3 linked regions of the Homo sapiens genome follow. The protein of the gene in region 1 purifies or fractionates together with the protein of each later gene. This does not show direct contact. Each region holds a gene or a part of one and is shown on either strand. Other genes may lie near its edges.

The links. Proteins that work in one complex are often made in the same cells at the same time.
Region 2: the proteins of CEP164 (region 1) and RASGRP1 purify together in Homo sapiens (affinity purification with mass spectrometry; one large-scale study listed by BioGRID and IntAct). This does not show direct contact.
Region 3: the proteins of CEP164 (region 1) and NPHP4 purify together in Homo sapiens (affinity purification with western blotting; one study listed by BioGRID). This does not show direct contact.

Annotation. Positions count from the first base shown.
Region 1 is NC_000011.10:117,397,354-117,400,853, forward strand, and holds part of CEP164 (centrosomal protein of 164 kDa), read left to right. Parts: intron 1-3,500. UniProt on the Homo sapiens protein: Plays a role in microtubule organization and/or maintenance for the formation of primary cilia (PC), a microtubule-based structure that protrudes from the surface of epithelial cells. Plays a critical role in G2/M checkpoint and nuclear divisions.
Region 2 is NC_000015.10:38,562,015-38,566,213, reverse strand, and holds the start of RASGRP1 (RAS guanyl-releasing protein 1), read left to right. Parts: upstream 1-1,399; 5' UTR 1,400-1,585; coding exon 1,586-1,620; intron 1,621-4,199. UniProt on the Homo sapiens protein: Functions as a calcium- and diacylglycerol (DAG)-regulated nucleotide exchange factor specifically activating Ras through the exchange of bound GDP for GTP. Activates the Erk/MAP kinase cascade.
Region 3 is NC_000001.11:5,873,926-5,877,425, reverse strand, and holds part of NPHP4 (nephrocystin-4), read left to right. Parts: intron 1-127; coding exon 128-333; intron 334-902; coding exon of another isoform or gene 903-905; exon of another isoform or gene 906-2,311; intron 2,312-2,325; coding exon 2,326-2,552; intron 2,553-2,768; coding exon 2,769-2,955; intron 2,956-3,500. UniProt on the Homo sapiens protein: Involved in the organization of apical junctions; the function is proposed to implicate a NPHP1-4-8 module. Does not seem to be strictly required for ciliogenesis. Required for building functional cilia.

The DNA of each region.
Region 1 (3,500 bases):
GAGGCGGGGGGAGTCAGCAAAACAGTCCTTTGGGCTCCCCCTCAGTTGGTCATTCTCGGGACTCCATGAGAGTGGCCACCTTGGCCCTGGGTCACTTATATTTACTTGGCAATGCATAGTATGCAAACACCTTTTCTAGTAGTAAATAATTTAAACCTCATGATAACACTATTAGTCCATTTTCATGCTGCTGATAAAGACATACCTGAAACTGGGAAGAAAAAGAAAATTGAACTTACAGTTCCACATGGCTGGGGAGGCCTCAGAATCATGGCAGGAGGCGAAAGGCACTTCTTACATGGTGGCAGCAAGAGAAAATGAGGAACAAGCAAAAGCAGAAACCCATCATAAACCCATCAGGATCTCGGGAGACTTATTCACTATCACGAGAACAGTATGGGGGAAATGGCCCCTGTGATTCAAATTATCTCCCACCAGGTCCCTCCCACAACACGTGGAAATTATGGGAGTACAATTCAAGATGAGATTTTGGTGGGGACACAGAGCCAAACCATATCATTCCACCCCTTGCCCCTCCATATCTCATGTCCTCACATTTCAAAACCAATCATGCCTTCCCAACAGTCCTCAAAGTCTTAACTCATTTCAGCATTAACCCAAAAGTCCACAGTCCAGAGTCTCATCTGAGACAAGGCAAGTCCCTTCTGCCTATGAGCCTGTAAAATAAAAAACAAGCTACTGACTTTCTAGATACAGTGGGGATACAGGCATTGGGTAAATACAGCCATTCCAAATGGGAGAAATTGGCCAAAACAAAGGGGTTACAGGGCCCATGCAAGTCTGAAATCCAGTGGGGCAGTCAAATTTTAAAGCTCCAAAATGATCTCCTTTGACTCCATGTCTCACATCCAGGTTACGCTGATGCAAGAGGTAGGTTCTCATTGTCTTGGGCAGCTCCGCCCCTGTGGCTTTGCAGGGTACAGCAATGCAGCCAGAAGGCAAACCCTTCCCAGCTGCCTTCCGAGGCTGGCATTGAGTATCTGCGGCTTTTTGAGGTGCATAGTGCAAGCTATTGACGGATCTACCATTCTGGGGGTCTGGAGGACGGTGGCCCTCTTCTCACAGCTCTATTAGGCAGTGCCCCAGTAGGGACTTTGTGTGGGGGCTCTGACCCCACATGTCCCTTCTGAACTGCCCTAGCAGAAGTTCTCCATGAGGGCCCCACCCCTGTAGCAGACTTTTTTCTGGGCATCTAGGTGTTTCCATACATCTTCTGAAATCTAGGCGGAGGTTCCCAGACCTTAGTTCTTGACTTCTGTGCAGCCGCAGGCTCAACACCACATGGAAGTTGCCAAGGTATGGGGCTTGCATCCTCTGAAACCATGGGCCAAGCTGTACCTTGCCCCCTTTTAGCAATGGCTGGAGTGGCTGGGATGCAGGGCACCAAGTCCCTAGGCTGCACACAGCATGGGGACCCTGGGCCTGGCCCACGAAACCATTTTTTCCTCCTAGGCCTCTGGGTCTGTGATGGGAGGGGCTGCCCATGAAGACCTATGACATGTCCTGGAGATATTTTCCCCATTGTCTTGGAGATTCTGCTCCTTGTTACATATGAAAATTTTTGCAGCTAGCTTGAATTTCTCCTCAAAAAATGGGTTTTTCTTTTCTTTCTTTTTATTTTTTAATTATACTTTAAGTTCTGGGATACATGTGCAGACCATGCAGGTTTGTTACATAGGTATATACGTGTCATGGTGGTTTGCTGCACCCAACAACCGGTCATCTGCATTAGGTATTTCTCCTAATGCTATCCCTCCCCTAGCCCCCAACCCTGACAGGCCCCGGTGTGTGATGTTTCCTTCCCTGTTTCCATGTGTTCTCATTGTTCAACTCCCACTTATGAGTGAGAACATGCAGTGTTTGATTTTCTGTTCCTGTGTTAGTTTGCTGAGAATGATAGTTTCCAGCTTCATCCATGTCCCTACAAAGGACATGAACTCATCCTTTTTTATGGCTGCATAGTATTCCATGGTGTATATGTGCCACATTTTCTTTATCCAGTCTATCATTGATGGGCATTTGGGTTGGTTCCAAGTCTTTGCTATTGTGAACAGTGCTGCAATAAACATATGTGTGCATGTGTCTTTATAATAGAATGGTTTATAATCCTTTGGGTATATACCCAGTAATGGAATTGCTGGGTCAAATGGTATTTCTGGTTCTAGATCCTTGAGGCATCACCACACTGTCTTCCACAGTGGTTGAACTAATTTATGCTTACACCAACAGTGCAAAAGCATTCCTATTTCTCCACATCCTCTCCCAGCACCTGTTGTTTCCTGACTATTTAATGATTGCCATTCTAACCAATGTGAGATGGTATCTCATTGTGGTTTTGATTTGCAGTTCTCTAATGACCAGTGATGATGAGCTTTTTTTTTATGTGTTTGTTGGCTGCGTAAATGTCTTCTTTTGAGAAGTGTCTGTTCATATCCTTTGCCCACTTTTTGATGAGGTTGTTTGTTTTTTTCTTGTAAATTTGTTTAAGTTCTTTGTAGATTCTGGATATTAGCCCTTTGTCAGATGGGTAGATTGCAAAAATTTTCTCCCATTCTGTAGGTTGCCTGTTCACTCTGATGGTAGTTTCTTTTGCTGTGCAGAAGCTCTTTAGTTTAATTAGATCTCATTTGTCAATTTTGGCTTTTGTTGCCATTGCTTTTGGTGTGTAGTCATGAAGTCTTTGTCCATGCCTATATCCTGAATGGTATTGCCTAGGTTTCCTTCTAGAGTTTTTATGGTTTTAGGTCTTACATTTAAGTCTTTAATCCATCTCGAATTAATTTTTGTATAAGGTGTAAGGAAGGGGTCCAGTTTCAGTTTTCTGCATATGGCTAGTCAGTTTTCACAACATCATTTATTAAATAGGGAATCCTTTCCCCATTTCTTGTTTTTGTCAGGTTTGTCAAAGATCAAATGGTTGTAGATGTGTGGCGCTATTTCTGAGGCCTCTGTTCTGTTCTATTGGCTTATATATCTGTTTTGGTACCAGTACCATGCTGTTTTGGTTACTGTAGCCTTGTAGTATCATTTGAAGTCAGGTAGTATGATGCCTCCAGCTTTGTTCTTTTTGCTTAGGATTGTCTTGGCTATACAGGCTCTTTTTTGGTTCCATATGAAAGTTGAAGTAGTTTTTTCTAATTCTGTGAAGAAAGTCAATGGTAGCTTGATGGGGATAGCATTGAATCTGTAAATTACTTTGGGCAGTATGGTCATTTTCACAATATTGATTCTTCGTATCCATGAGCATGGAATGTTTTTCCATTTGTTTTTGTCCTCTCTTACTTCCTTGAGCAGTGGTTTGTAGTTCCCCTTGAAGAGGTCCTTCACATCCCTTGTAAGTTGGATTCCTAGGTATTTTATTCTCTTTGTAGCAACTGTGAATGGGAGTTCACTCATGCTTTGGCTCTCCGTTTGCCTATTATTGGTGTATAGGAATGCTTATAATTTTTGCACATTGATTTTGTATCCTGAGACTTTGC
Region 2 (4,199 bases), on another chromosome or scaffold:
TGGTCTCAGTATCAAGAAAGGGGGATCTTCTCTTGAGCAATTTTGTTTTTGGTCTTGCATGTGATAGGAATTGAACTTTAGACAAGGCCTCTCTTTAAACTTGACTGCTAGAAATGCAGGAGACAAATTTTGGTCCCACCTGTAGCAAGGGTATTTGACTCTATGAGATGCATTTATTTCAAATGATGTTCATTTTTGGCTCCATCTTGTGTGCCTCATTTTTCATTTCACACACTTCTTTTTGTAGGTTATGTGCTCTTGTAAGCTATCTCGAATTCTGTTTTAAGGACAAGGTAGCATATAAATATAAGGAAATATATAAATGAAACAGAGGAAGGCTTTAAAGTCCAGAACACTATGGCCAGGAAGACAACTATGACTGTGGCTAGAGTTATGGTCTGTGGCCGTGATAATGAGTGTGTTATTAGGGCAGTCCAGCAGTGATTACAGGGAGTCAGACAGACCTCAGTCCAAGTCAGAGGTCTCTCTGCTGTTTATTAGTTGTATGATCTAAGGCATAGCATTCTCTAAACCTTCATTTTCTCATCTTTACAACAGTGATCTCTTTGTATCAGGGAGAGTGGATTAAATGAGGTAATGTATAGAAAGCACTTAGCACAACCGCACTCAATCATTAGCTATTGAGATTATCAGCACTATCACCTGGACAAGCAGCGGATGGGCCGCCCCTCTTGGCCAGGTCTTCTGTGCGCACTGACGTTGTATGAAAGTTGTCCCCACATCTCCTACACCCACCGACGCCAGGCGGCCGCGTCTGGGCCAGATATGGATCACGCCTGTGGAGCGCACCTCCACACAGGCAGCCCTCGTCCAAGGTGCAGGGCGCAGGGCACAGGGCACATGTCTACGGCCCAGTCCTGCAGACGGCTACCTAGAGACCCCAGGGCACAGGTTAAGGCAACTTCACAACTGTCTTTCCGTTCCTTTCCCCTGCCGGACTCCGCGCTCTGATATATACAGGAGAGGCCCTGGAGGGGAGAAGGCGTCCTCACTGCAGTGCTCCGAGCAGCGGCCGCAGGAAGAGGCGTGGAAGCTGCGGGTCGGCTGCGGGAAAGGGGGTCCCATGGGAGCCGCTAGGCGCAGCCCGTTTCCCGAGCTGAGGTGGAGGTCGACGGGCACAGGTGCCCTGCAAGGCGCGGGCGTGGTAGCCGGGAGCCCGCTCCTCTCCAACTCCCCTGAGACTTAACCCTTTGGCCAAGAGAGGTCGAAGGCGGGCAGGGGTGAGAGAACCGCGCGAGGCGCAGGCCGGGGCACCCGCGGAAAGGGGGCAGGTTTCGGGGAAGAGCGGCGGGGCGCCGCACGTTTCCTGCAGCCGCCAGCATCAGCGTGTCAGGTGGTTGCCAGGCGGGTGTGAGCGCGCGCGCGAGGCAGAGGGGGCGCGCTCGCACAAAGTTTGTGCCTGCGGTGCACCTCGGTCGGGCTCGCCGGGCTCGAGGGCTGGCGGGCGCCGGGGCTACGAGGCCCGGGGGGGAGAGAGCCGGCAGGCGGCGGCGGTGGTGGCGGGGGCGATGCGCCGCGCCCGGCCGCGCTAGGTGAGCCGGCACCGGGAGCGCGGGCCGCGGCCATGGGCACCCTGGGCAAGGCGAGAGAGGCTCCGCGGTGAGTAGAGGCGGCCGTGGCCCTCGGGAGCGCCTGTGTCCTTTCTTGGGAAAGAGGCCCCTGCCCGTCGCCCCAACACCCCGAGGGAAGTTGAGGGCGGAGGGGGGCCGGGGTCGGCCGGAGTCCCGGGACACCAGCGCGACGGGCGGACGTGTCCAGAACGCCCGGCGCGCTGCGCCCGGGGTTTCGGGGAGGGAGCTGGGGCTGAGGGGTGGTAGAGGGGCGGCCGCGAGGCCAGAGCTCGTCCGGTGAGATCTGCTAGGGCCGAAGCTCTTCGCGGAGCCGGCGCCCGCCCGCCGACTTCCTCCCCCACATCTCCACGCCCGGCATCGGGACTCCCACTCGCGGACTTTCCGCGCTGCCCGCACCTGCTGGGGCGCTGGGCTCCGGCTGCGCCACCTGGTGGCCCCTCCCGGCCCTGCCCAGAACGGCCGAGGAGCTTGCAGGGAGCCCGCAGAGGTGGCACCCCTCGGTTGCCCCTGCCCCACGGAAGTTTCCAGATCCGTGGGTCAGGGAAACATATCGCCTTCCGTATGGGAAGCTGCACTCCTCTCCCCCTCACTATGATTCTATAGAGGGTCTTGGATAACAGAAGTTGAAGAAAGAGGGACAGTGAGTGAAAGGGCTCTTGGCCAGGCAGCTTTGAGTTTGTAGCCAAAGGACCAGAACTAGGCAACTGCATGAACAAAGGCCTGGCCTCGGCGTAGGGGCTGGACAAGTTGTGCACTTCACAACTCCATTCACATCGACACTGATGGGACTGTGCCTTGCACCACCATACCCAGTAGCGGCAGGAAGCTTGCGATGCTGGACTTCCCGTGCTTATAATCCCAGGAACGAAGGATTCTTGGCCCTGTATGCACGCCCTGCCTCTCCCCATCCAGGTATCCCCTGAGGGTCCACCACTGTACTTTGCACTAGATTCAGAAGGAGGAGTTCAGTACATTAAATTGAGTATTGTAAGGGGAAGAGGACGGGACTGGAAGGAATCCATACTAGAAGTCAAGAGAGTCACCTTCCACTGCAAAGAAAGTTGTGGAAGTTCCAGTTCCCTTGCTCCATTTCATCTCTTACTTTTCTAGGCGGATTTCATAAAAAGCTCAGCCTGAAACTGACCTCCACTGAGATACCTATGCCTGGAGAGGATTTCACCTAAACCAGTTTAGAGTTTTGACGGTCTCCTTCAGCAAACCTATGGGGCTTTGGTTACTTTTAGGCTTGGAAAACACCTTCAAGTTAATTTGTTTCTCTCGGGGTTTTGGTTTTTTCATTTACAGGAAAACATTTGGCTACTGTATTTTTTTAAAAAATATGCCTTTACAGACTCAGAGGCCATTCATTCTATGGATTGTTAAAACACCTTCGACCTGCCTATAATAGAGCATTTTATAAATCCTTGTCTACTCCCATTTCACCAGAAAAGGCAGAACGATTTGAGGATTTTTCACAAGGCAACCAGTTAAGAGACTGTACAGCAAGAAAGCCAGGTTTCCTAGTCTATGGTGCAGATAATCCCCATCTTCTTAGAACTCTGAGGCTGCACTTTGGCTTTTAGTACTTTCTCTTCTCCCTGTTCTCTCATGGCCTAGTCCTCTGAGTCTCTCTGGGCTCCATACTTCCCAGATTGCTTTTGTCACCCTTTCTTCCCTTTTACTACCCTATACTTTACCCTGATCCCTTCTAGTTCTGGTAAAAGCATCAACCTTCAAGAATCCACTTATGAAACAAAGCGGTTTCTCTTACTGGTGACACTAGGAAACTTTACCAGAATTAGAAAACAGGGCAGGATTAGGAGTCTTGAATGGTCAGTGTCACCAACCAAGAAAGAAAATGGAATTTTCCTTGGATCTGTAGCCACCTCCCCTCCACCCCTAGCAGGAAGAGCTCTGTCAGTAGATAGAGCCTCTAGTTGCAGTTGCCTCTTCTCCAAGGTCTAGGGAGAAGTATTGTGGAAGGCCTGAGAGAAGGAGACTTCTACAATGAATGACTTTATTTTTTTAAAACCTTTCCCCTACTCTGCCTTTGGTGGAGGTCTTAATGGTGACAAAGGCAGCAGCTGGGGCAGAAAGCTGAGTAATCCCAGCAGTGGCTATGTAGCCCCAGGTGTAGAGAGTTGTTAGTGCTTCCAGGAAGGGAAGGGCGCCCACCTGGGGCGCACTGCATGGGCCACAAGGGGCTGGCTTCTAGCCTGTCTCTGCAGTGGTGGCCAGGCACGTTGCTCTTCTGATTCTGGACCTCCACACTGTAGAAGGGGGCTTTGGAAAATGACCATAAAGAGTCTGTCCAGCTCTAGGGACCTGAGGACAGTTCTGAGGGCCTGCAAGAGGAATATGGGCTGAGATTCAGCCTTTACATTACCAGTTATGCTTTTGAAGGATTTTGCTTTCATTTTAAATTGAATTGACCTTTTCAGCCTCTCTGTGATTGTCTACTACTAATCCTGATGTTGTGAAATGTGCAGAGTTCCAGGCACAGTCAATATTTATTAAATGAATAAAGCCAGAGAGGTGCTGGGTACAAATCTCAGGTTGATTATATATGAGTTTTATAACCTTGGCTATGTCATTTACCCTTTTTTA
Region 3 (3,500 bases), on another chromosome or scaffold:
AAAAAGCATGAGCCGCACTCTTGAGCTCCCTCCCTATATAGGTGGTCCTGGGAGGCCTGCCCTGGTGTCTGCTCCTGGAAGGCAGACACTGCACGTCTACCTGACTCGCGCTCTGACCCTTTCGCAGGAAAACACGTGGTGCAAGCACAGAAGCTGGCGGACGTGGACAGTGAGCTGGCTGCCATGCTACTGACCCATGCCCGGCAGGGCAAGGGGCCCCAGGACGTCAGCCGCGAGTCGGATGCCACCCGCAGGCGTAAGCTGGAGCGGATGAGGTCTGTGCGCCTGCAGGAGGCCGGGGGAGACTTGGGCCGGCGCGGGACGAGCGTGTTGGTAAGGGTTTGTTCAGCTGTCACTGTCCTGGGATCTCCATGCAGACTGAGTCACTGTGCACATCCTTTCCCTGCCTCCCACATGATTCTCTCTTACCTTCCTCCCAAATCCTGGGGACAGAATATAAGAAAATCGGACTTTTTCAGCCACCGGGGGAAATCTTTAAGTGAGAATTATCTGGAGAGCTTTTAATAAAAGCCAGTTCTTGGGCGTCACCCCTGGAGATTCTGATACTGATTGGTGTGGGCAGGACCCCTGGAGCCTGGGTTTGAAGAAAGCTTTGCAGGTGATTCTGAGGCTCTCCCAGGTCTGGGGACCAGAGCTGTGAACAACTGACATATCCTGGGTTGTCAATGTAATCATTCTGGCTAGAAAAATTCCCCTTTTTGGCTGAAAATCTAAATAGAACTTTTAATATTTTGCTACTAAGAAATGGGAGGTGAGAATGGTTGTACCTCCTGGGTTCATAGAAGTCGGGAACCACAGGGGCCTTGAGAAAGATCTCCTGAGATTCCCCCTTGCATGTAGGTAGGCCGGGGTCTGAACAGAGGTGGCCCTTTTCCTGACAGTAAACTCAGCAGGGCTGCCACTCAGCCTCCCTGCCAGCAAGGCGTTGGTGCTCAAAGGTGGATGCAGACGCCTCGGTCCCTCCCTAGGCTCAGTTCAGTCTGATGGGGCGAGGAAGAGGCATGGTGAGAAGACACGGGGTGAGGAGGCCTGGCCTGATCCCACAGGACTGGTGGGCTCAGTGGTCAGGGAGGAGGGAGGGACTAGAGGGAGGCCAGGGCAGGGCCAGGGCATGACTGGGGCCTCCTCCCAGGCCTCAGGACACCCACCCCACCTCCCTCCCTCCCTTCCTCCCTCCCTCCCAGCTGGCAGGGCTTGAAGCTGTGGCCTCTGGAGGCCCCTAGCCTGGATAACCTTAGCTCTGTCAGCATAAGCTTGGAATTGAGGAGCCACTCTCAGCCCTATCCCTGTTTCTCATCCTAACTCATGTCTGGCCCCATCGTCCAGCACAGCCTGTCAGAGGTTCCACTCCTGAAAAGCTCTGAGGATGAAATTCTGATGGAGGCCCCAAGTGTGAAAGGCCAGCTCCAATCCCCCTGCAAAGGAACAGCCAGAGCCTTGGATGTTGGAAAGTGAATGTCCAAAGTCATTTAAGCCAGAAATCAAATTTTGTCCTCACCTTTTGAGTTAAATCCTGAAAGCACTGAAGTCAGCCCATCTCTCTGACGCCTCAGCCTCCTCTGTGTTAGACAGAAGGTTCCCAGCGCCCGGCCGCAGCGGCTTCTTGGAGTAGCTGCAGGCTGGCTGACTCCCCGGCATGGGGGTGGCCCCTTCCAGGCCTGAGATCTTGCAAGGCAGCCTCTAGTGGGCCTTACTTTTTCTTGTAAGTCCCACAGGAAAAACAGGCCAGTCTCCAACCTGTAGAACCCATGTGTGCTGGCCAAGCCCCTTGAGTCCCTGCGGCATCAGAGCAAGGGGGTGGCTGAGCCTTGCTGAGGCAGCGTGCTGCTTGCCTGGACTCTGACCCGGTGTGACCGAGACTCAGCAGGCCGGGGGCATGTCCTCTCCTGTGGACGCTGGGCCCAGGCAGGGCTCCCAAAGTTGTGTTGGGGACCTGGCTGGTGAGGCCTGTCACCATAGTTTTGAGGCCATTCTTTTCTCTTGTTTGAAACTTCTGATTCTCCACCGTGCGGGGGGCCAGACTCGTGTCTGTGAAGAGTCTCTCAGGAATAGGCAGGGATGCTGTGTGGACCTCCGTGTCAGGGACACAGCCAGCAGATCTCTGTCCAGCACTGCCTGAGATCCATGCCTGGGCGGGGCCGGCCAGTTCCACCCAGACCACATGGTCAAGGAAGGGGGTGGTGGTGGCGATGCTTGTGGAGAAATGTCCTCTTCTGAGATCGCGGGTGGTGGGCAGCCAGCAATAGCCCCTTGTGGAGGAGAGTGTGCCTGGGACCCTGTCCACCCATGTCCTCTTGTCTGCAGGCGCAGCAGAGCGTCCGCACACAGCACTTGCGGGACCTACAGGTCATCGCCGCCTACCGGGAACGCACGAAGGCCGAGAGCATCGCCAGCCTGCTGAGCCTGGCCATCACCACGGAGCACACGCTCCACGCCACGCTGGGGGTCGCCGAGTTCTTTGAGTTTGTGCTTAAGAACCCCCACAACACACAGCACACGGTGACTGTGGAGATCGACAACCCCGAGCTCAGGTGAGGTCTCAGTGGTGCCCGTCCTGCCCCAGCCCAGATCTGTGTCGGGTGCAGCCGGCACCCCTGCTGAGCTGGCTCGAATTCTGCCCGAGAGCCGGGGCGATTTGACTTCTCTCTCCCACTCCTCTGAGCACCGCTCTCGGTGGGTGGGACCGCAGCCTCCTGTGGGTCCTCCTGGGAAGAACTGCCCTGACGCCTGGACACTGCCTCCCCCAGCGTCATCGTGGACAGTCAGGAGTGGAGGGACTTCAAGGGTGCTGCTGGCCTGCACACACCGGTGGAGGAGGACATGTTCCACCTGCGTGGCAGCCTGGCCCCCCAGCTCTACCTGCGCCCCCACGAGACCGCCCACGTCCCCTTCAAGTTCCAGAGCTTCTCTGCAGGGCAGCTGGCCATGGTGCAGGTGCGGGTGTCAGGCACACAGGGAAGTTGCATTTGGCTGATGACGGTGGGAAATTGAGAATGCTTCCAGTCTCCACCAGTGTCCCTCCCTTACCTGTGCAGACAGACTAGCCTTGGGGCTGCCGCCCACTCCCCTTGGTGCTCAACAAGAGCCCTGGCATGTACACTGCAAGTGGCAACCAGCCCCTTCTCTTTTCCAGCCTGATGGGTGTCGAGCTGGACCATCTCCTCCTAATTTTCTTTACTAAGTTGGTTGGAAGGGCTTCTTAAAGCCCAGTGAATCTAATGGATTGACGTTTTCTAGCATCTTCTTTCCAGTTAATGTTGTTTGGTCCCTTCCGACTGCAGCACTGTCTGCTCTATGCAAGATGCAGCTTTGCAGGCATGTGTGCGGGGAGCATGCGTGCAGGGAGCATGTGTGCAGGGAGCGTGCGTGCAGCAGGTATATGTGCAAGAGGTATGTGTGCAGGATGTATGTGAGGTGTGTGTGCAGGGGCGATATGTGAGGTGTGTGTGCAGGAGGCATGTATGCAGGGTGTGTGTGAG